Homo sapiens: one gene and its partners. The protein of the gene in region 2 interacts with the protein of the main gene of each other region in a pairwise test. Each region holds a gene or a part of one and is shown on either strand. Other genes may lie near its edges. The genes, in order: CCDC33, KHDRBS3, RBBP6 and CACNA1A.

Region 1 (6,354 bases), on a different chromosome or scaffold from region 2:
TTGCCCCCAGAACCTGGGCCTCCTGACTCCCTGTAGGTGCCTCCTTTCCCCTGGCCCAATCTGCTCTCCTGCCCCGGCTACATTTGGACACATCATTGCCAGCTCAGCCTAGTGGCTTAATGGAGTATTTCACAATGATACGTGACTGCCACAGGAAGGCTTCAAGCCTCCAAGTCTTTCCCTTTCCAAGAGACAGACAAACCAAACTTGAAAGAAGGAATATCAGACATGATAGATGTTTTGGGGCAGATGAAAAGGACAAGCCTCCCTCGTATTTCCCAACAGAGCTGGTCTCTGGTGGCCTTGCTTCTTCTCCGGGTCTGGAAGGGGCCCGTCTCCCTGGCCCCTGCTTTGGAAGGCCTCTTCTCTCCACCCTCCTGGGTCCACTGTGGCCCTTGGCTTTCCAAAGATGCTGGCTCCTGGGGCAGGCGGGAGGCTGTAAGGCTGCAGCAGAAGACCCAGGCCCAGGCCCAGAGTGAGGTCTAGGAGGAGGAAGCAGGGCCCCCAGGCTGCCCTGCTCCAGGAAAGAGGAAAATGCTCACAGAGCTACAACATTTAATAACGTCATTTTTAGGGGGCGGTGATGAGACTCCCCAGCACACAGGGAAGGAGGCCTGCTCTGGGGCTCAGGTCTGCTGAGAGTTAGCGGTCTCCTTCTGGGGGCTCAAGGGCTTGTTGAGCTTAGAGTCTGAGCTGGGCAGCAGGGGCTCCAGCTCTGAGGGCTGCTTGAGGTCCATGGAGTGGGTGAGGGCACTCTGTGGTGTGCAAAGCGGGGTGCGTGAGTACCCCCCATTCCCAGGGGGTGACCTGCTCAAGGGCATATTGCCTGACAAACCAGGCCTCAGAGTATCCAGAATCCAGTGGGCCATGACCTGGCAAAGATTTCTAAACCCATTTTGCCACAGCAGGTGACACCTAATTTCTCCAAGGGTCCCCAGGGCTCAGGTGAGTGTGCAAAGGTTGCCTTTGTTCCTTGCCTGTTCCCTCATCCTTTCCAGGCCTTTCCCAGGAGCCGCTGCTGAGCTTCTGGCCACGGGCAAAGCACAGCTGGCTCAAGAGCAGGAGAAGTCAGGGTCTTTGCTTTGCGGGGCTGGGCGGTCCCGGGGTTGAACTTGAGGGGCAGTTGTGAGCAGGCCTGTTTGTTCTCGGGAAGTTGGCAAAGTGGAGCCTACATCGTGGCCATCTGAGAAGGGTGTGCTAATTTGAGAATCTTAGGCTCTATGGATTCAGGGGGGTAGGGCCACAAGCTACTCTGCCCATGAGCGCAGCCAGTCCTAAAGCACAGTGTCAGGGCATCCTGGAGATGCCTGCATGGACCCCTCATCCACAGTCATCTCCTTGAGTTTCACAGCACCCCATGGGGGAAAGGGTAGTTTTGGCAGGGGTTTTCTGTTCCCCTTAGACAGGTGGGGGAATTAAGACCGAGCCTTCGGTTGGTAATGGAGCAGGAATGGGAGCCTAGGACTCCTGACCCCCAGCCCTGGAGTTGGCTCCACAATGGCTTTTCTCAGGGCCCAGTGACTTTGGGGGTGCGGTGGCTTCCTGCTCCACCACCTGAACCCCTGGGAGCTACTCCAGGGGGGTCACTCACAGGCTGTTCTATGATGATGGAGTTCGAGGGGTGCCTGAAACCTTTTTCTTGCTCCTGCAGCCGTGTGGCCAGATCCTGCTTCTCTCGTCCCCAGCGTCGAGCTGAGTCCTCTAACTGCAGACACAGAGAGGGACAATTGGAGGACCATGGGCAGCAGGGCTAATCCCTGATGGCCAGGACAACCAGGGCCTGAGCCTGCTGTCCAGGCAGAAAGCAAAGCTCTGGGCCATGTGGGCTTGACACCTTCCCGAGACCTCAGGGGTGGCGGGGTGAGGGTGAGGGGGCCAAACAGTCAGGCAGCCTGACCAAGACACAGATGGACATTTCAACAACATACTGAGCTCTGATCCTGAGTCCACACTGATCCCTGATTCTGGTCATAGACAGAGCCTGACCCTGGTCACACAATGAACCCTGACCCTGGATATACACTGAACCCTAACCCTGGTCATACACAGAACCCTAACCCTGGTCATACACAGAACCCTAACCTCGTTGTACACGGAACCCTGACCCTGGTTGCACACTGAACGCTGACTCTGGTCACACACTGAATCCTAACCCTGGCTGCACACTGAACCCTGACCCTGGTTGTATACTGAACCCTAACCCTGGTCGCACACTGAACCCTGACCCTGGTTGTACACTGAACCCTGACCCTGGTCACACACTGAACCCTAACCCTGGTCACACACTGAACCCTGACCCTGGATGTACACTGAACCCTGACCCTGGTCACACACTGAACCCTAACCCTGGTTGTACACTGAGCCCTGACCCTGATTGTACACTGAACCCTGACCCTGGTCACACACTGAACCCTAACCCTGGTTGTACACTGAACCCTGACCCTGGTTGCACATTGAACCCTAACCCTGGTAACACACTGAACTCTAACCCTGGTTGTACACTGAACCCTGACCCTGGTTACACACTGAACCCTAACCCTGGTTGTACACTGAGCCCTGACCCTGGTTGCACACTGAACCCCGACCCTGGCCACACACTAAGCCTTGATCCTGGTCATAGATTGAGCCTAGACTCTGCTCACACACTGAGCCCTGGTTATAGGCTGTGTGGTGAGCCTGATCCAGCCTCATCAACTCCTGCATCTCACCCACCTGGCTTTCCAGGGACAGGATCCGGCTCTGAGCGTGTTCCAGCTTGGCCAGGAGGTTGAACTTGTCTGAAGTACCAGAGAGGAGATCCTGTGGGCAAAGCACAAACTCACATTTGGCCCCAGCTGGAGGCTGTGGCAGTGTGAGCTTGGGAAACCATAAGGTATTGAGGAAGAAACCAGTCAGGCCTGAGTTCAGACTGAGCTCCCGAGGCAGAGCGTCAGACCTGGGCCGAACCCTCTTCTGGAAGTTCAGAACAGGGTCTGGCATGTGCTTTTTTCACAGCTGTTTCCCACACAGATTTTGAGAATACGAAGTTTTGACACAACATTTTTTTTAATGTAAAATGCATTAGGGAGCCCCCTATAATTAACGCACTGGGAGTCTTTGAGTGAAGTGAAGAACCTGTGAGGCAGTTGACCTCATCCCTCACACTTTACCTGGATGTCCATGAGTCAGGTGTGCTTTCAACAGAACTCACCTCCGGCGAGTCCTGGGATGGAGAGAAAACTCTCCTGTGCCCCTGCCCTGCCCAATATTCTGTGATTCCAAATGTTCTGCTTTGGGGTTTATGTAAAGCAAGGGGCCCCTGAAGCATCTTCAGAGGTGGAGCAGGGCCTGGGCATTTCTGGGCCCTGGGCCACCCACCTGTGCGGGCAGGGTCTCTGTGCACTCTGAGTGGCCTGGGCCATGCGTCTCTTGTAGCCTCTCTGTCAAGTCTCCTCCTGCTCCCAACTCCCCGGGGTCCACCTGGGATGGAAAAGGGCTCTCCAAGGCTGCACCAAGACCAGGGAATGCTCCAGAAGGGAGTTTTGAGAGGCCTGTGTAGGGTCCAGGTGGAGGCCAGCCAGGTGAAAAAGGGGTCAGGGTTCAGGGACCAAGGGTCAACAAGGGGCTTGCTTTCTCCTGGGATGCTAGATGAGGTTAAAGGTGAAGTGTTCGGGGACACACATTCCGCAGGAGAAAAAGACCAAGGCCTGAGAGCTGATTCCAGGAGCCCCCAGGCAGACTGGAGACCCTGGGAAGCTTAGCTCCTGGTCTTGATCTTCAACTTGGGTTGTACCATGGGTGATTTCTGGGCACCCAGTGACCGGCATAGGCAGGCCCAGGTCAAGGGCCTCTTACCGGCAGGGCCTGTTGCTGCAGAATGATGGGGGCCTGCTGGTGGCGGTTCTTATCCAGCTCCGTCCGCAGCTTCGCGTTTTCTGCCAGCAGCACCGAGTAAAGTTCAACCGGCAGGTTCTCTCCCATAGAACCCAAGGGAAGGCCAGAGGCTGAGAGCATAGGGAAGCCTAGAGACACGGCCACAGATGTTGGTGAGATGGGCTCTCCTGCTTCCCATGTCCCTGTCCTGATCTGCTCCAGCATTTTGCTTCAATCTGCCACCCCTCCCCTCTACTCCCAAGCCTTCAATGGCTCCCTACCACCAGTGGGATCAGGTGCACACAGGCTGTCCTTCTAGGCTCTTTAGAACCTGACCTCAACGTTCTCTCTAACTCCTCATTTGTCTTCAGTGTATTTCAGCTCCTCACCTCTCTCTCTTCCTCCCTTCTCTGATCCTGGAATTCTTCTCACTCCCTGGGCCTTTGATCTGGCTGTTTCCCCTCCCTAGGTTGCCTTCTCAGTCTCATCCAGACTCCTGGATGACCTCAGGCTTCCTGAAAGGCCAGCCCAGCTTTCATTGCATTCTAAAGGCTCCTAGAAACACCCTCCTGCCCCTGAGACCCTCAGCGGTGAAGGCTAAGCACAGGGCTGGGCACACAGGGGCCCTGGGTGAGGTTGCACAGGCAGGCTCAGGGAAATCCCTTGCTTTGGGCTGGCCTGATATGGTGTTACCTGGTCCTTTCTGCTTATCAGAGGCTGATTGGCAGTTTTAGGTGGCTTTTGGTTAATATCGATGGGGAAGAAAACCTCCAAATCATTTATTTATTTATTTATTTTGAGGCGGAGTCTCCCTCTGTCACCCAGGCCGGAGTACAGTGGCACAATCTTGGCTCACAGCAACCTCTGCCTCCTGGGCTCAAGTGATTCTCCTGCCTCAGCCTCCCAAGTAGCTGGGATTATAGGTGCCCGCCACCATGCCCAGCTAATTTTTGTATTTTTAGTAGAGATGGGGTTTCACCATGTTGGCCAGGCTGGTCTTGAACTCCTGACCTCAAGTGATCTGCCCTCCTCGGCCTCCCAAAGTGCTGGGATTACAGGCATGAACCATTGCGCCTGGCCCCAGATCATTGATTTAATCAAAGTATTTTTGTTTGTTTGCTTTGCAGAGGCAGAATCTTTGGCGGTATGGGGAAATAATTCGACGGATCCTGGGGCTAGGAGCTGGGAAGTGTTGCCCCAGGTGGCCCTTCTTCAGGGGAAGGCCCTCTCTGCTGTGCTAGTCTGCAGGGCCCTCCTCTGGAGGTCCACCCTCTTTCTAGCCTGGCTCACACTGCATCCCAATTGTGTTCTGAGGGGCTTCCAGGGAAGGAGGGAGCTCAGGGGATCTCTGGATGGGGCGCCTGAATGAGGAGGGGAGCAGGGCAATCCTGGGTCTCCCAGGCCCACAGACATAACTGAGTGCAGGGGACCTCTTCGCAGGTTCTCCTGAAGCTGAGAGGCTCCAGGAAGGCAGGGCCTCCAGGGGTGGAGCAGAAGCTGGGGAGCTGATCACATCAGGGTGTGGACCCACCCGTGTAGGGCTTTCCCTGCTGCCTGTTCAGAGGAGGGGGCTTGCTCCTGTCCTGCAGCCTGTCCTCCAGCACCCGCTCCATCTTCTCGATCACCTGGAGAGCAGAGCAGAGGCTGGGCTGGCCCAGGGGCTCCCTACTCTGCCATCATCAGTTGGCCTCGGGGGCAGCCCCTCTGCCACCTGCCTTCTCTTGGTGCCGCACAGTCTCCTCCAGCGCCTTCATCTTCTGCAGCTTGCCCTGGTACTGCTTCAGCAGAGCGGCCTGTGGCTGCTGGGCCTGATACAGAAGGAGCAGCTCCTTCTCTCGATCATTCTTCTGTGAGATGGGGGAGGAGAGAAGGGGAGAGAATGGGTGCCTGGGAGTCCACCTTGGCCCTGAGGGTCCACCTCGGCCCCTCTGCTGAATCCTCCACCAGGCTGGTCCCCCTTTCTTCCGTGCTTCCATTCCCTCTGTGCCTGTTCTCCCTTCTCCTCCCAGACTCTTCTCACCCCGATGCTCCCCCACCATAGCTCCCTCCCCTCTGCCCCCACAAGCCCCAGCTCACTCGAATCAGCTCATTCTGCAAATGCTGCACCCTGTCCCTCAGTTTCTTCATATCCAGCTCACTCAGCAGCAGTTTCTGCTTCATGGACACTGTTAGGTGGGTTGGGGAGCTGGCTCAGGGAGGAAGCCTCTCCCAGCTCAAATCAGCATGGTCAGTAGCAGGAAGGCAGATATCCCTTGGCCCGAGGGCTTGGGACGGGACTGGATTCTCTGTTTCCCATCCCTGAGAGGACCCAGCTGGGCAGGGACTGTGTGAGTGTCTGTGGGCGAGGGGCTCCTATTTGCCAGAGTCCAGCAGCATGCACATCTGGGAGAAGCTCCCAGCCACCCTATTGCACAACCTGGAGCCTGGGCCCAGGCAGAAGCCCGGGTGCCCTTGGTGGCCTGCACATCCTCACCCGTGTTCTGGGCCTCACTGGCTTTGCCC
Region 2 (7,038 bases):
CACAGAGGTTATTTAATTCAGTGTCCTATAATCCCTTTTATGGCATTTCTGATGAAGGGAACATGCAGCATCTGTTACACTTTCTCCAAAGATGAAGAGATTTTATTTATAACCTCGGCTAGTGGAACACTGTTTTTTTTTTTGGTTTTGTTTTTTAAAGCACTGGTTTTTCAAGACAGAACATAGGCCTTGAACTTTGAATCCTGAATCTGCTCCTTCTTTACCAGTCCTGTGACTTTGGGCAAGGCACTTAACTTCCCTGACCTTAAATTCTCATTTGTACAGTAGAGATCATAGTAGGTGGTTATAAGGAAAACGTGACATATATCAAAGTGCCTTGTGGAGAGCAGTTTCTCATCAAATATTACATCCTTCTTTAAAGCCCCTTTTTATACTGAGATGAGATTTACAGTAGGTTTTTCTGTTTCCTTCAGGAGCTAACAAAATTAATCTTATTCATTTGTAACCTGTGACTACCCGTCCAGTGCTAGAAGACAACAGTAACTTAGGAAAGTTATTTTCTCAAATACTATCATATTTCTTCCCATCACATGCTTTTACCAGGAACTTAGAAAAAATCAATGGTAATCTTCATCTGAACAATGTTATCAAGTCTCTGTATAGGGTTGGTTCAGTCCAACGAACATTTACTAAGTGCTTACAATGTGCCAAAAACTGAGCTAGTAGCCAGAGATTAACCTAGAGATAAAGAATTTTTCCTTAGAAGTTAATAATCTTTTGAAAACTGGACATATTATGATTGTTCTACATAGCTATATACTAAATACTATGTTACATAAAAATTGCTATGTGAATAAAACTGAAAAATCACACAGAAGGCATCTGTGGTGGGTTCTCTGCAGGAGACAATTTTTAAAAACCATCTTGTGACCATTCATTCATTCATTCAGTAAATATTTACTAAAGACCTACTATGTGCCAGACATTATATACTAGTTATTGGGAATAAAAAGGTGAAGTGTGGTGGGTGGGAGGAAGGGGAGGCAGGGGGAGAGTGCCTACCCTCATGGAATTTAGAATCTAATTTAAGATGTTCTAGTTCCATGTAATAATTTTAGTATATTCAAAGATGGCCAACTTTCCCATTTGATGCATGAATGAATAACCATTTATTTGTGTTACAAGCTCCTTGGTTTTCTAAGTTGGGTATCTTATAATACACCCACCCTATCTAAAATCCAAGAAACAAAGAAACGATTTTTCTTTTTTTTTTTTTTTTTTTGAGACGGAGTCTCGCTCTGTCACCCAGGCTGGGGTGCAGTGGGGCGATCACAGCTCACTGCAACCTCCACCTGCCGGGTTCAAGCAATTCTCCCACCTCAGCCTCCTAAGTAGGTGGGTTTACAGGTGCGCACCACTACACCCGGCTAATTTTTGTATTTTTTTTTTTTGGTAGAGATGAGGTTTCACCATGTTGGCCAGGCTGGTCTTGAACTCCTGACCTCAAGTGATGTGCCCACCTTGGCCTCTGAAAATGCTAGGATTACAAGCGTGAGCATCGTGCCGAGCCCAACATAAAAAAATTTTTTAAGAAGAATTTACTTCCCATTCCCCCTACCATGCTGCAAAACTAAGCGTGATGGGTGAGTAATCTTTAGGTTTTCAAACAGTTGAGACCAATGGCCAAGGTCTGAAGTTATGCCAGAGGTTGCAAGCTGTATTAGAAAAGTTGGAAGTAGAAAACTGGGTCAGTGGAGGAAGATGAGGTCAAACGGGTATCTGCAAGGCAGTGCTACTGATGGCAAGCCACTGTAAGCAAGCTGAAGGGCTTTATCTACTCCTTATACCAAGTACCAGCAAAGTTTGTTATATACAGTGAAGCTTTTACTATACTGAAAAAGCCACTGAAGCTTTTACTATAACTGTGCCAAGGCAGCTCACAAAATGCTAAGCTAAATGAGGAAAATCTTTTCTCTTGACTAGTAATCTTAAAAGGCACTGCCAGGAATAATAGATGCTAAATTAAGTGGGAAAGCTATAACGTTTGTAATCTGAACCCTTCATGATGATAATTCAACTCGGGGAAGGAGGTGCACTCATGATGGTATTTCTTTTCCTTTGGTGTCCCACTATACCACCCAAAGCACACCTGGAAAGCACACAGCTGTTTTATGTATGCAAGACTTGTAATTGTATGAAGCTGATAAAATTGCAAATACTGCATTCCAGCCAAATTACAACACTGGCGGATATGACCGTCAGTTATTTGAAGGCAACGCTACCATGTGACAGAAAGAGCACTGGCTCTGTGTTGAAATCACAGCTGCAGTAACAGTCAGTGCCTGGAAGAGTGCCAGGCATGAGTGAGTGTGGGAATCAAACAATGAAGGTTGACTTTTTCCTTTAGAGCTCTTAAACCTTTGTCTGGTTCTGGAAAAACGCAGGTAATCTTCTACAGGGCCATTATCCCATTATCTTTGGTAGCAGATGGAAAAGGGAGTAAATTAATCCTACAGAATACTTCTCAATTCAATTGTTTTAATGCCTTTCCTATCATTTACAAAAATAAAAAATAAATAAAACAATCAAAAGTACAAGCAGCAAACCCAAATGTCTTGAATGTCTCTTGCTTTTGCTTTTCCTCCTTTGGACTTTAACCTTTCAAGAATTTTTCAGTTTTATTAATCTATATAATTTATTTCCAGACTCTAATAATTAGAGTATACATGCTGAGACAGACAACATGTGTGTCTGGCTCACACGGTAGAAATCCAATCTTTATTGAATGGAAAGATGAATACATGTAATGAAGGCAATAGTTCTTTCTGAAATAAGTGGATTATGAAGCCCAAAAAGTTAAATATCTTGCCCGATATTAAAATTTATGGTAAAATGGGGTATAGGATCCAGGTTTCCCACACAACCTGCCTGGCAATTTCTACTACATCATCCAACCACATCTGTATTAAATCTAAACCTAAGAAATCAATGTAAGCCAAAGTGGAAATGAACAGACACTGGGCCTACCTAAAAGGAATTTAAGATTTACTCTCCTTTAGAGTCCCTGATACTTTCAGGAGACTCAGCATTTATGGAAGAGCTGAGGCATAATTATTATTGTCATCTGGTAAGATTATTAGGAAGTAGGAACACATTTAACTGTAACGAATTCAAAGAGAGGAAACACATCCTTCCTCAGCTGAATAACAAACTTGTAAAACTATTACGGGATTTGTTAAAATATAATTCAGTGGGCTCCCAGTATGCACTCTCTCCCAAGTATAAAGAGATAAAAGCTATCCATTCCTGCCCTTCCAGAGGTTCACAAGCTAGGTGGGAGAGAGAAATGTAAGAACTGTAGTAATGCTCAACAGGTTAGCTATTACCACCTCTAAATTTCCCTAGCAATGATTGACCTACGTGTAGAAGGACACAAGGAGACAGTCAAATGAAACATAAGAACACCATTCTAGGCTGAGGAGGCAGTATAAGCAAAGGTCTGGAAGACTAAGATGACACAGAATGTTCAGGGAATTACAAAAACTTAAATATGTCCAAGACAAAGACTTTGATCTTACCAGTGGCCACACAGATGAGGTTGAAGAGGTTGTCTGAGGCCCAGGGGATTATTGCAACCTTCTAGAAACTATGCAAAGAGGCACAGAGCACCTAGCAAGAGATCTCTCCTAAAGTAAAACAATGAAAACCTACTGATACTTGCATTTTATCATTGTTACTGCTTCCCTTTCATTGACAATGGTTCACATACACTTACTTTAACAATTTCAATTATTAATATGAATCACCTATCCATTGCTTCTTATTTTCTTCATTTATGGTAAATGAGGACATCAAAGAATTCCCTTCCCCCTCAACTTTCACGGTTATTATTCTCTCTTACGTTAAGTCAGTCTATGAATTATATCAAAGAATCGCTGAATGATAAATGAAAAACTGATTTGCACTAATTGAAAATAGAGAACTTTTGTTTTCTTTACTGAAAAGAATTTCCACTAAGAATCCATACTCAGCAGAGTAGCTTAAAAGGAAACAGTTAAGGCGGAAACCATCTTGGTATACGCAGGCAATTATTTTTTAAATGACTGAAGTATTCAGGAGTGAAATATGCAAGAATGTTACATTAAATTCCTGTAAGGGCTTGAAAATATGTCTCCTGAACCTTAGTCTTACACCTCCCCACCACCCAAACTCCTCTTCCATACCTTAGATTTAAACTATTTGATGAAAAAGATCAGGCCATTTTTATACCTCTAGTATTAAGTACTTCTTTAGCACTCAATAAATATTTGCTGAAACAAAGTAGAATACTCAAGAACCAAAACAAGGTGAGGAAGCGTACGCGGGTACAATATCCAGTGCTAAGTCTGGATTAAGTCAATCTGATGAACAAGGCTGTTGTCTGACACCTTCACTTACATATTCTCCATAAGTCTCTTGTGTCGGGGGTGGCGGTGGAGGTCTGTACCCAGTTGGGGGGACTCCTCTTGCTCTGGGAGTGAGAAGTCCTCTTCCCCGACTCACTGGCCCTCGGGTGGACAGGACTCCTCTGGGAGTTGGCGTCCCTCGTGGTACTACAACTCCAACTGGCCGGGCTGTAACTCCTCCCCTTCCCCTGTAACCAAGAGAGTCAAATTAGCAGTATCTATCATAGTCTCTAACATTCTGTTATTCACATATATTTATACCTCAGAAACAAAATCAATGTTCTATATTTTTGTAAAAAGGAAGAAGGAAGTCACAAGCAAAGAACTAAAGCAAACATGAAACAGGTGTCTGTCAAAAGGAAATTAAGGCATTTAGGCAGTTCGTCTAGCAACAATATAGAAGTCTGGAGTTAATCTCTGGTCAATACACAGAGTAGGAAACTGTGATATTTGGAGAAGCCACATGCACCCAAGACTTCTATATAATGCCATGCCAGGATTACACCCAAACTTCACTCCCACACTATGAGGTGTGCCTTTTCTTGCTTATCTCAGGACAAGGAAACTGAGGCTCAGAGAGATTTTAAAACTGTCTCAGAACAGCTGTGAGCAAAGCCAGAGGCCAAAATATATGCCAAAATTCCACCAGAGAGACAATAAAATATACTTTCCTGAATAATGTGTCAACCACATGGTAATAAAACAACATTCTTAGGTTAAGTAAACACAGGCATTTTCTGAGGTAGAATTCAACATATTCATGTATTTCTAATGTAAATCATAAGACTTCAAGTCAGGAAGGAAGGAGATGGCTCTATCAAGAATGGCTCCACAGAAGCAAAAACCTGAGAAAACATAAGGACAGAAAAGTGTGGCTACCCCAGAGAATACAGACACAGCATGATGACCTCATCTGGATAAGGCCCTCCAGGAAGAACTGCAGCTGGCAGGCTGGCTGCCTACAGATCAGCTTCCTCCTTCTTCAGTGTGTCTGGGATAGCAAATACGCAGCTAAAGACTCATTTTCCAAAAATAGCAAATTATCAAAACCCAAAGCTGGACTTTGAAAAGACTGATGAAATTGATAAACCTCTAGACAGGCTAAAGAGAAAAAAAAAGCCCAAACACCAATATCAGAAATGAAGAGGGTTTTGGCCGGGTGTGACGGCTCAGGCCTGTAATCCCAGCACTTTGGGAGGCCAAGGCAGGTGGATCACCTGAGGCCAAGAGTTCAAGACCAGCCTGGTCAACATGGCAAAACTCCATCTCTACTAAAAATACAAAAATTAGCTGGGCACGGTGGTGTGTGCCTATAGTCCCAGCTACTTGGGAGGCTGAGCAACAACAATCACTTGAACCCAAGAGGCTGAGGTTGCAGTGAGCCAGGATCACACCACTGCACTCCAGCCTGGGTGACAGAGTGACTCTGTCTCAGAAAAATTAAAAAAAAAAAAAAAAAAGAGAGAGAGAGAGAGGAAGAGGATTTCATTATTTTTGACCTCAAGGACATTTAAGAATAATGAAGAAATACTATGAACAACTCCAAGCTCACACATTTTTTAACTTACATGAATGTGACTGATTCTGATTCATAATGACCAACACAAAGAGAATTAAATAATCTGAATGGGCTTATGTCTATTAAATAAATTTAATCAATAGTTAATGATCTTCCAAAAAAGAAAGCATCAACTCCATATGGTTTCAATGAATTTTGTCAAATATTAAAGAATGAAATGATACCAGTTCTCTATAATCTTGTCCAAAAAATAAAAGCAGAGGGAACACTTCCTAACCCAATCTGTGGGGCTGGTCATTGGAAGTGCCTCGTTCAAAGTATTTCTACATTACTCATCAGAGGCTGGGACCAGTCTGGGCCAGCCAGGGAGGCCAGAGGTGACTGTCCCCAGCCTATTCTTGAGCACTGGTTGGGACCTGACAAAGGAAGTATCTCTCAAAATACTAAATCACCCTCAGAGGCTACAACTGGCCAGAGATGGGGAGGAAAAGCATTAACAGGTGCCAGATTTGTGACCAGCCCAAATGCTCTGTGACCTCCTTAGAATGAGATGTGGTCTGAGGGGGAACAAGAACAAGGCCTCCTCATAACCAATGTGGATAAAGACAGTCTAAAGTGAAGAACTAGAAATCAGCATCTCTCATGAACACAGGTACAAAAATCCTCAAAACTATTAGCAAACTCCATTCCATAATGTGCTAAAAGAATTATACACCATAACCAAGTAGGATTTATTCCAGGTACATAAGGTTGATTTAATATTAGAAAATCAATGTAACCCACCACATCAACAAGGCCAAAGTAGGAAAATCATGTGATCATATAAATAGAGCAGAAAAAGCATGCGGCCAATGGCGACATTCATTCATAACAACTTTCAGTAAATTTCCTCAAGTTGAAAAAGAACATCGGGCAGGAATGGTGGCTCACACCTGTAATCCCAGAACTTTGTGAGGCCAACATGGGTGGATCACTTGAGATCAGGAGTTCGAAACCAGCATGGCCAACATGGTGAAACCCCGTCTCTACTGAAAAAAGACAAAAATTAGCCAGGCGTGGTGATACACGCCTGTAATGCCAGCTACTCAGGCTGAGGCATGAGAATTACTTGAA
Region 3 (7,038 bases), on a different chromosome or scaffold from region 2:
AAAATAATTTTAGCTTGATTTAATGTGCAATTTTGTATTTACCTACTGCTTTTATTTTTTGTTTCTAGGTCCAGTAAGAATAAATACTGCTCGTCCAGGTGGTGGTCGACCAGGCTGGGAACAGTGAGTAGATGTTTACAATAATCTTCAGATGATTGCCTGCAAACTAGATAATGGAAGGTCCAAACTAGGCAAACTAGATAATGGAAGGTCCAAACTAGGCAGCGGGTCGCTGCTCTTTATTGTAAACTTTCATGTGCCAGATTAACATTTTTTATGTAAAATGTCAAAATTCAAGCTTATATGAGGGTTTTTTTTAAATGAGCAAATCTTTTCTAAAATACAAAATTTTAAAAGTTTTTTTCTACTTTCATATCCAACAAATGGGGATCTTGACAGGACTTCAGTTTAATGAATAGATAAGAATTACTTGAAAAGTTATTTTAAATATGGTGGCAGTTATTTTCCTAGTAGGTTTAACTTTTTCTACCCTTAATTTGGATGATCAAAGTTTGATTTGAGTACATAAATACATAATAAGATTAACGTCTACCAAACAAAAATTTTTTGTCTGAAATCGAGTTGTTCTTGCCACCCTAAAATACAAAGAACTTTGATTTTCTCTGTGGGATATTTTATGGCATTAAAAATCAGCAGACTTACTTAATGTATTTTTAGTTATATAATTATTTCTGTTTATATAATCCGATTGAAAATTGATATATTCTTAAAAGTATGAGTTACTAGCAGGATGTATCAGTAGAAGGAACATAGGATTTAGAAACAGGTAGACTTGGGTTTGAATCCCATCTCCTTCATTTCCTAGCTGCATGACAGTGGTCTTGTGGTTTTACTCCCTAACATCCATTTCCTCGTTTGGATTTGGAATGACACTACCTACCTTAACATGTAAAATGACTTCATTGTGCCCAGCAGACAAAAGGGCTCTTTTCCTTGTATATAACAATAAGTTCACAGAGTAATTTATAGAGTGCTAATTAAAATATAATATTACATAAAGTAATCTATTTTGAGGTCTAGTTATTGTTATGATACAGTTAATTGGTGGGGGAAAGTTAGTTTTAAGTAAATATAATATTTACTCAGCTCTGTATCCGAAACAAATTTAAGAACTGGGGAGTAGGAAAAAGTTTTCAGAGTAGTTAAAATTGGTGTCTTAACAGCTATGCATGGAAAGGTCATGTATTATACCCATGGAGAAATACTTGAGCCTATTTTTTTTTCTCCCACACAGTTCCAACAAACTTGGCTATCTGGTTTCTCCACCACAACAAATTAGAAGAGGGGAGAGGAGCTGCTACAGGTAGGCATGCTAAAAATCTTGGAAAATAATCATCTTATTTTTTATATATATATCTCACCAAAGAAATTAAAGCACAGCAGTGGCAGGAAGGAAGGGGGTCATTTGTTTGTATTGTGCTTATCCCTCTTAAGTCCTGGGTAGTTGTCCTTAAAGAGGGCTAGAAAAGAATAAATTATATATAGTATCTTAAATGATGGTTTTTAAGACATTTTTAATATTCCTTCCCAGTGATTACTTTCTCCCTGTCAGCAAACAGCAGAGTATTGGCTTGCATTTACCCTCTTGGAAGTAGAAGAAAGTCAGGGGTCAGACAATATCTAAGATACCAGTTTAATTTAAGATTAAAGTTAACAAGCTCAGCTCCCAACTGTGAACAAGAATTGCAACTATTTCTCTTCTAGACCCCACTGTCCCAATCATCTCCCACCGTCTCTTTTCCAAAAGAAGAGACAGGAGATTGTTAGAGGCTCCTGCCCTAGTGGGCGGGTACAAGCAATATTAATCTAAGAAGTAAGAATCTTACTGTCTAGGTCAGGGGTCCCCAACCCTGGGCCACAGACCAGTATCCATCCTTGGCCTGTTAGGAACTGGGCAACACAGCAGGAGGTGAACAGCAGCTGAGCGAGCATTACCACCTGAGCTCCACCTCTTGTCAGATCAGCAGTGGCATTAAGATTCTCATAGGAGCATGAACCCTGTTGTGAACTGCGTGTGCAAAGGATCTGGGTTGCACGCTTCTTAGGAGAATCTAATGCCTGATCATCTAAGGTGGAACAGTTTTTACCCCCCTGCCCCCGTCCATGGAAAAATTGTCTTCCACAAAACAGCTCCCTGGTGCCAAAACGGTTGAGAACTGCTAGTCTAGGTCATAATCACCACCAGGATAAAGGAGCCTCCAAAACTTCATAACAAGAGTTTTGGCCAGGCATAATGGCTCATGCTGGTAATTTTAGAGCTTTGGGAGGCTGATGGGGGAGGATTGCTTGAGGCCTGAAGTTCAAGATTAGCCTGGGCAACATAGCAAGACTCTGTCTCTACCAAAAAAATAAAATAACCAGACATGGTGGCATGCACCTGTGGTCCCAGCTACCTGGGAGGCTGAGGCAGGAGGATCACTTGAGCTTAGGAAGTCAAGGCTGCAGTGAGCTATAACCACATCACTGCACTTTAGCCTAGGGGACAGAGTGAGACCCTGTCTCCAAAAAGAAGGAAATTCGGGATATCTTCTAGTGCTTCATTGCTAAACTTATGAAAGTTTACTATGTCATTACTGGATCACATTTTAAAAGAAGGTAATAGTTATTCATGGCTCACTGAAAAGATGCTTAAAATCTAAACCCCTACTGTTGCTGTTGTGTACCAATTATTTATAATTTAAAGCACCTCTAGTTTAACAGAAGTAACCAGTTCTGTTTGGTGAGGCACAAATTAGAAACTTAGCCAACACTGTTATTTTTACTTAAGCTTTTGAGAGAAAGCGTTGATATTTTCATTGTTAATTATAGAAGTTAAAACTAGAATTTATTCTGCTTTGTATGATCTTTACCCACTTCCTCCCTCAAAAAAGAGGTTACAGGAGTTGGTTTTCCTTCATTTAAACTTTTGGGGCCAGGTGTGGTGGCTCTCACCTGTAACCCCAGCACTTTGTGCAGATCACCTGAGGTCAGGAGTTTGAGAACAGCCTGCCCAACATGGTGAAACCCTGTCTCTCCTAAAAATACAAAAATTAGCTGGGCATGGTGGCACACGTCTCTAGTCCCAGCTACTTGGGAAGCTGAGGCAGGAGAATTCGCTTGAACCCAGGAGGTGGAGGTTGCAGTGAGCCAAGATTACACCACTGTAGTCCAGCCTGGACGACAGAGTGAGACTCTGTCTCAAAAAATAAAAAATAAATGAATAAGTAAGCTTTTGGGGAGAGCTAGGTCATAGCAGCATTAACCTGTCAGTGCCTTCAAAAGACAGTTTAGGAAGTAACAGGTAGTAATTAGTGGAGTGATAATCAGTCTGAACTTCATAAAAGAGAACTTTTAAATACAATATTTCCGTGTAGAGAAGGTCCTATAAACTTGCATCATCTCAGTCGAGACATGGCCTTAAAAATTATGTTGTAGAGTTATTTTTACAAATAAATTGTACTAATGTTGCTACACTAGTTGAATAGTTGGTTCTATTCCACTGTTTTTAAGTTTGAAAATAATTATGGATAGAAGAGATAAGCTTACTTGTCTCAGATGACTTTAGTTTGAAGAAGTAATATCTTGGAATTTATTTTTCCAGAAGTATAAACCGTGGGCGACACCACAGCGAAAGATCACAGAGGACTCAAGGCCCGTCACTACCAGCAACTCCAGTCTTTGTACCTGTTCCACCACCTCCTTTGTATCCGCCTCCTCCCCATACACTTCCTCTCCCTCCGGGTGTTCCTCCTCCACAGTTTTCTCCTCAGTTTCCTCCTGGCCAGCCACCACCCGCTGGGTATAGTGTCCCTCCTCCAGGGTTTCCTCCAGCTCCTGCCAATTTATCAACACCTTGGGTATCATCAGGAGTGCAGACAGCTCATTCAAATACCATCCCAACAACACAAGCACCACCTTTGTCCAGGGAAGAATTCTATAGAGAGCAGCGACGACTAAAAGAAGAGTATGTATTCTAATTTGAAATTATTATACACTTTTTTCATTTTCTGATAATAACATTAAATAGGTGTCTGGAAACGTTTTCCAGTGTTTCCAGTTAGTATGAGAAATTCACCTAAAATTTAAACCAAAGCCATACAAGCAACTTCTCAGGGATTCCTAGTTTATAGTTTTAAAGTGGAAAACTAATGGCAATTTCATTCATTTCATTCATGATCTAATTACATTTGTCTTGTTAGTTTTCTTAAATGGTTTTTGTTAACTTTCACTCTTTAACTTTATTTTACTAGGGAAAAGAAAAAGTCCAAGCTAGATGAGTTTACAAATGATTTTGCTAAGGAATTGATGGAATACAAAAAGATTCAAAAGGAGCGTAGGCGCTCATTTTCCAGGTTAGTGTTTTGCAAGCCTTCACAACAGAATTACAAACGGGACTTTGAATATCCAGGGATTAGCTATGGATATAAAGAACATTGCACTTAGGAATTTTTCTGATTCGGTCTAGGTGTATAGAAGTGAAGATGTAGCTTATTTCCCAATATCTGTTCATTGAAATAATGTCTCAGTGTAAATTTTATTGTGTAGAACTAACAGTTGTGGGGATTAAATTGCCCTTGTCCCTTAAAGTTATTCATAGTATCAAATAATTGGGAAATGTTTTTGGAAGGAAAGAAATAGGGGAATAGCCAAAAAACAGTTCCCAGGACCCTTTTACCATAAGGCTACAGCTTCTTGCTGGAACATTAACCTGCGTAATTATGAAGTAGTAGTAGAATACAGATCGCTTTATTGATAGAAAAAGTGAATTATAAAAATTCCCTGGAAGTTTGTTTAAAAGACTTTATTTTTTAGCCTTACACTTGAAATGTGGTTTCTTTTAAAACTAGGCTGTTGGCCAGTATAGGACAAAAAACAGACTCCTACTTCAATATTCAGATAGGAAGTGAAATTTAAAATTAATTGACATTTTGTTTAATGTTAGTTAGCTCATATAACTCACGGTACATTAATGCACTTCACTCTAATTGTTAAGACTTCACTTTTGTTTTGTAACAAGTGATTGCTCCGATTTGTGTACTTTATTCCATTCCAGTAGAGGTCACTGTGCCTCTTTAATCATCTAAGATGAAATTTGATATAAAGATAGATGAAACCGTGAGGAAAGAATGCTAGAATCTGAGAGTCTGTGTTTTATTTTGTATGTATTTCTCAACTATCAACTATTGTTTTGTTTTGTTTTTAGGTCTAAATCTCCCTATAGTGGTTCTTCGTATTCAAGAAGTTCATATACTTATTCTAAATCAAGATCTGGTTCAACACGTTCACGCTCTTATTCTCGATCATTCAGCCGCTCACATTCTCGTTCCTATTCACGGTCACCTCCATACCCCAGAAGAGGCAGAGGCAAGAGCCGCAATTACCGTTCACGGTCTAGATCTCATGGATATCATCGATCTAGGTCAAGGTCACCCCCTTACAGACGCTATCATTCACGATCAAGATCTCCTCAAGCGTTTAGGGGACAGTCTCCTAATAAACGTAATGTACCTCAAGGGGAAACAGAACGTGAATATTTTAATAGATACAGAGAAGTTCCACCACCATATGACATGAAAGCATATTATGGGAGAAGTGTTGACTTTAGAGACCCATTTGAAAAAGAACGCTACCGAGAATGGGAGAGAAAATATAGAGAGTGGTATGAAAAATATTATAAAGGTTATGCTGCTGGAGCACAGCCTAGACCCTCAGCAAATAGAGAGAACTTTTCTCCAGAGAGATTTTTGCCACTTAACATCAGGAATTCTCCCTTCACAAGAGGCCGCAGAGAAGACTATGTTGGTGGGCAAAGTCATAGAAGTCGAAACATAGGTAGCAACTATCCAGAAAAGCTTTCAGCAAGAGATGGTCACAATCAGAAGGATAATACAAAGTCAAAAGAGAAGGAGAGTGAAAACGCTCCAGGAGATGGTAAAGGAAATAAGCATAAGAAACACAGAAAAAGAAGAAAAGGGGAGGAAAGTGAGGGTTTTCTGAACCCAGAGTTATTAGAGACTTCTAGGAAATCAAGAGAACCTACAGGTGTTGAAGAAAATAAAACAGACTCATTGTTTGTTCTCCCAAGTAGAGATGATGCCACACCTGTTAGAGATGAACCAATGGATGCAGAATCAATCACTTTTAAATCAGTGTCTGAAAAAGACAAGAGAGAAAGGGATAAACCAAAAGCAAAGGGTGATAAAACCAAACGGAAGAATGATGGATCTGCTGTGTCCAAAAAAGAAAATATTGTAAAACCTGCTAAAGGACCCCAAGAAAAAGTAGATGGAGAACGTGAGAGATCTCCTCGATCTGAACCTCCAATTAAAAAAGCCAAAGAGGAGACTCCGAAGACTGACAATACTAAATCATCATCTTCCTCTCAGAAGGATGAAAAAATCACTGGAACCCCCAGAAAAGCTCACTCTAAATCAGCAAAAGAACACCAAGAAACAAAACCAGTCAAAGAGGAAAAAGTGAAGAAGGACTATTCCAAAGATGTCAAATCAGAAAAGCTAACAACTAAGGAAGAAAAGGCCAAGAAGCCTAATGAGAAAAACAAACCACTTGATAATAAGGGAGAAAAAAGAAAAAGAAAAACTGAAGAAAAAGGCGTAGATAAAGATTTTGAGTCTTCTTCAATGAAAATCTCGAAACTAGAAGTGACTGAAATAGTGAAACCATCACCAAAGCGCAAAATGGAACCTGATACTGAAAAAATGGATAGGACCCCTGAAAAGGACAAAATTTCTTTAAGTGCGCCAGCCAAAAAAATCAAACTCAACAGAGAAACTGGGAAGAAAATTGGAAGTACAGAAAATATATCAAACACAAAAGAACCCTCTGAAAAATTGGAGTCAACATCTAGCAAAGTTAAACAAGAAAAAGTCAAAGGAAAGGTCAGACGAAAAGTGACTGGAACTGAAGGATCCAGCTCAACTCTGGTGGATTACACCAGGTAGCTGAGTGTAGGGGGTGGGTGTGGAACTTTGTTGGGAGAAGGATTTTCTTCAGTTTTATCCATGCTTGTGCTTTTTA
Region 4 (3,576 bases), on a different chromosome or scaffold from region 2:
GGCGTTTCACTATGTTGGCCAGGCTGGTTGTGAACTCCTGACCTCATGTGATCCACCCACCTCGGCCTCCCAAAGTGCTGGGATTATAGGCGTGAGCCACCGCGCCCTGCCTTTTTTTTTTTTATTTTGAGACAAGAGTCTCATTCCGTCACTCAGGCTGGAGTGCAGTGGTGGGATCTTGGCTCACTGCTAACCTCCGCCTCTCAGGCTCAGGTGATTCTCATGCCTCAGCCTCCGGAGTAGCTGGGATTACAGTTTGTGCAACCACGCATGGCTAATTTTTTTTGTATTTTTAGTAGAGATGAGGTTTTGCCATGTTGGTCGGGCTGGTCTCGAACTCCTGACCTCAAGTGATCCATCTGCCTTAGCCTCCCAAAGTGCTGGGATTACAGGCGTGCATGATGCCCGGCCTCCTTGTCGCTTTCAAACAGTGCTTCTAGGAGCTAACAAAGAAGTGCCTCTTTGTATGATTCCCCAAGAGAGACCCACCCAGGCAGCACCTAGCCAAGGGACAAAGACCACTCCTATCCAAAAGCCCTTTGATTCAACTTTTTTTTATTTTTTTTTTCTTTTTGAATGTCATGCAATAATTCACAGTCCCAAGCCCACGGTTTTCAAACAAGGTAGGAAAAAAGGAAAAAAGAAGCAAAGGAATCGGTGGTGATGGTGGGTTTTTCTTCTTCTTTTGTTGTTTCAAGCAGGACCAAATGTCAGAAAAAAATGCCTCTTTTCTCAATCATTAATTTTTTTGTCCTTTTTAAAATTGTTTATTGTTATTATTATTTTTTTAAATTGATTTCTGCAGGCAGTAATAGTAGGGTTTGGTATAACCGGCAAGCACTCTTGTGTGTGTCTGAGAACGTGTGTGGGTGTGAGTGTGTCTGGTGGTGGGTGTAGGGCACTGGGATTCTGGTTCCTTCTGGCTTCTTTGCCGCACTCGGCCACCAGCTGTCTTCATCAGGGAAAGGAAAGATTCAATTGAGATGATAAAACTCATCAATAGAAGCTATTTTTTTCTCCCCGTTTTTTCTTTTAAAAATGTTTTTTTTTTTTTTTTTTTTTTTTTTTTTCATGTTCCCCAAAGTTCTCCAAAAATGGCTGAGTTAATTCAAATCCCTTGGCTGTGTGGTTTGTCTGCTCCCTGCCTCCCACCCGAGAGCCCCTGTCGTGGGTGGGGGGATCGGGGCTGGTTGGGGGGCGCCGTGGCTGCCCAGGAGGGTCTCTTTTGGCCGAGGGTCTCTGCGGGACACCCTTGTGGCCCAGCCCTGGCCTCTCCAGAGTCTGGGGTCTCCCGGCTGGCCCTCTCCCGGGCCCTCTGTGCTGGGCCCCCGCGGCCTCTGCGCGGCTCCTCGGGTGGGGTGTGTGCGTGGGGTGCGTGGGGGGCCGGGCGGGCGCCACCTCGCCCGGGCTTAGCACCAATCATCGTCACTCTCGCTGTAGGGTTCGTGCAGGCCCTTCCTGGAGCCCGGCCCGCGGGGCCTGGCCAGTCCGTGCGCCGGGTAGTAGCCGTTGGGGAGTCGCCGGCCGTGCCGAGAAGGCGAGGCGCAGGCCGGGCCCGAGGCCCGGGGAGTCCTGGGCGAGCGCCCGGTGGCGCCCGAGGACGCGTGTCGTACGGGGGGTGGCGCGTCGTAGGCCCCGGCCATGGCCTCCTCGCCGCCCCCGCTGCCCGGGCCATCGGCCTCGTCGTAGTCGGAGCCCCGGTAGTAGCCATGGTGCCGGGGACCCGGGGGCCCCTCGGACACGTGCGGGCCAGATGCCGGCCACCGGGCCCCGCCGTGTCGACAGGCCCTGGGGGACTCGCTCCGGGCCGGGCCTGGGACCCGCCTCTCCATCCTGGGCGAGCGGCCGCTGCTGTGGCCCCCCGTGGGCGGCCGATCTCCGGCCAGAGGCTCGGCCGTGGGGCCTGGGTACCTCCGAGGGCCGCTGGTGGCCGCCCGGCCCGGCCTGGCCACCGCCTGCTGCTGCTGCTGCTGCTGCTGCTGCTGCTGCTGCTGCGGGGGCCCCGAGCCGCCGGCCTTACGGATCACAGGGGAATAGGACACGTGTGGCCGGGGGGTGGAGGGGGTCTGGGGGAGCTGGCGGCGGCCCCGCCGCGGAGTGCTGGTACCAGATGTTGAGGGGGCTGGGCTTCCACTTACGGAACTACTGCCCTACACGAAAATTGAAACAAAGGAAATCAAAAAAAAAGATACAACAAAATCAAAGGAGACACGGGATTGGGAGGAAGAGAGGGGAGCGAAGGGAGAGGGGCCGGGAGGAGAGGGAGGAGGGGGAGGGGGAGGAGGAGGAGGAGGAGGAGAGGGGGGACACAGGACATTGAATGGAAAAAAGCAACAGCCACAGGGAGGAGGGAGGGGAGGAGGGGGAGTGAGACAGGGAGGGGAGGAGTCGAAAACCAACACAACAAAGTGAAAAGAGAAATGAGAAATGGAGTTTTGTAAGTTTCGGGGTTAAAAATAGCAGAAGTTTCAAAAATTACTCACAGGCGTCCAGAGGACAGAAATCATAATTGAAACAAAAACAGAAGCCGGGTTAAAGGAAAGTGAAAGGTCGGGCGGCACGGCCCAGAACTCAAATATGATCCACAACCGAGGAGCAAGCAGCTGCGGGCGGCGGGGAGGGGGCGGCGGGTGGGCAAGGGGGCTGGGGGGACAGCATAGGCAGCTGGTGTGGTGGGGATCCGTGTCCGCTCCGGCCGCCGGGCACCCCGGTGGCTTGGGGGCAGGATGGGAGGTGGTCACAGCCGGGATCCGGGGACCTTTGCCTAGAGTGGCTGTTGGATGGGGTATCCCCTTCTCTCCTCCCCGCCTCCCGGCCGAGCCCAGCCTGGGGTCACTTGCAGCCGCACCCACCTGCCGGTGCGCCATGTGCTCTCGGCCCTCGCTGGGCGAGCGGGACCAGCGCTGGTCCCGAGCCCGTGCCCGGCCGTGGTCCGGCCGTTCCTGGGCATAGCGGTCCTTGTCGGGGGGCGGGGGATGGTGGTGGTGGTGGTGGTGGTGGTGGTGCTGTCGATGCTTCCGATCCTTGGGCCGGCCCCGCTCCTGGTCCCGCTCCTTCGACGGCAGGTCCCCGGATTGGGTGGTCATGCTCAGGTCTGTCCCCAAGCCTGGGCCGGGTGAGGGTCAGACAGACACACAGGTGGTCGTGAGGGAGAGGTGGGGCAGATGCACACACAGGAGGCCACCTGGAAGGTGTGGGGGCCCTAGAGATCCCCTGAACCGAGGCAGGTCAGTGGGTTGGGGGGAGGGGGTAGTACCCAGGTTCCTGCAGCTGCTGCCTGGCCCCCTCTGTCCCCTCTCCATGGAGGCCTCTCCCTTTCTTCTTCCTTAGTGTCTCCTCCGCCCTGCCTTCTCCTCCCCTCTCCTCTCCTCTGTTCTGCTTGTCCCTGAGCACCACAGGGCTGCCCACCTGTGTCCACATCGGTGTAGCGGCCCAGGGAGCGCTCAGAGGCGCGGTGGCTGCGGTCGCGGCGCCGCTGGTGGTGCCGCTGGTTCTCCTCGGGCGGGACCCGCTCCAGCGAGTAATCGTCCAGGCGTCGGGCCTTGGGGCCCAGCACGGAGGCTGAACGCTTCATGG

The links.
Region 1: the proteins of KHDRBS3 (region 2) and CCDC33 interact in a two-hybrid assay, tested with the Homo sapiens proteins (2 studies listed by BioGRID and IntAct).
Region 3: the proteins of KHDRBS3 (region 2) and RBBP6 interact in a two-hybrid assay, tested with the Homo sapiens proteins (one study listed by BioGRID and IntAct).
Region 4: the proteins of KHDRBS3 (region 2) and CACNA1A interact in a two-hybrid assay, tested with the Homo sapiens proteins (one study listed by BioGRID and IntAct).

Annotation. Positions count from the first base shown.
Region 1 is NC_000015.10:74,330,326-74,336,679, reverse strand, and holds the end of CCDC33 (coiled-coil domain-containing protein 33), read right to left. Parts: coding exon 6,326-6,354; intron 6,018-6,325; coding exon 5,929-6,017; intron 5,700-5,928; coding exon 5,568-5,699; intron 5,478-5,567; coding exon 5,384-5,477; intron 4,002-5,383; coding exon 3,835-4,001; intron 3,460-3,834; coding exon of another isoform or gene 3,358-3,459; intron 2,800-3,357; coding exon 2,713-2,799; intron 1,706-2,712; coding exon 1,592-1,705; coding exon of another isoform or gene 1,508-1,591; exon of another isoform or gene 1,184-1,507; coding exon of another isoform or gene 1,169-1,183; exon of another isoform or gene 756-1,168; coding exon 627-755; 3' UTR 539-626; downstream 1-538.
Region 2 is NC_000008.11:135,579,434-135,586,471, reverse strand, and holds part of KHDRBS3 (KH domain-containing, RNA-binding, signal transduction-associated protein 3), read right to left. Parts: intron 4,595-7,038; coding exon 4,399-4,594; intron 1-4,398. UniProt on the Homo sapiens protein: RNA-binding protein that plays a role in the regulation of alternative splicing and influences mRNA splice site selection and exon inclusion. Binds preferentially to the 5'-[AU]UAAA-3' motif in vitro.
Region 3 is NC_000016.10:24,563,542-24,570,579, forward strand, and holds part of RBBP6 (E3 ubiquitin-protein ligase RBBP6), read left to right. Parts: intron 1-68; coding exon 69-123; intron 124-1,255; coding exon 1,256-1,324; intron 1,325-3,601; coding exon 3,602-3,964; intron 3,965-4,250; coding exon 4,251-4,352; intron 4,353-5,203; coding exon 5,204-6,958; intron 6,959-7,038. UniProt on the Homo sapiens protein: E3 ubiquitin-protein ligase which promotes ubiquitination of YBX1, leading to its degradation by the proteasome.
Region 4 is NC_000019.10:13,205,904-13,209,479, forward strand, and holds the end of CACNA1A (voltage-dependent P/Q-type calcium channel subunit alpha-1A), read right to left. Parts: coding exon 3,409-3,576; intron 3,107-3,408; coding exon 2,853-3,106; intron 2,151-2,852; coding exon 1,410-2,150; 3' UTR 539-1,409; downstream 1-538.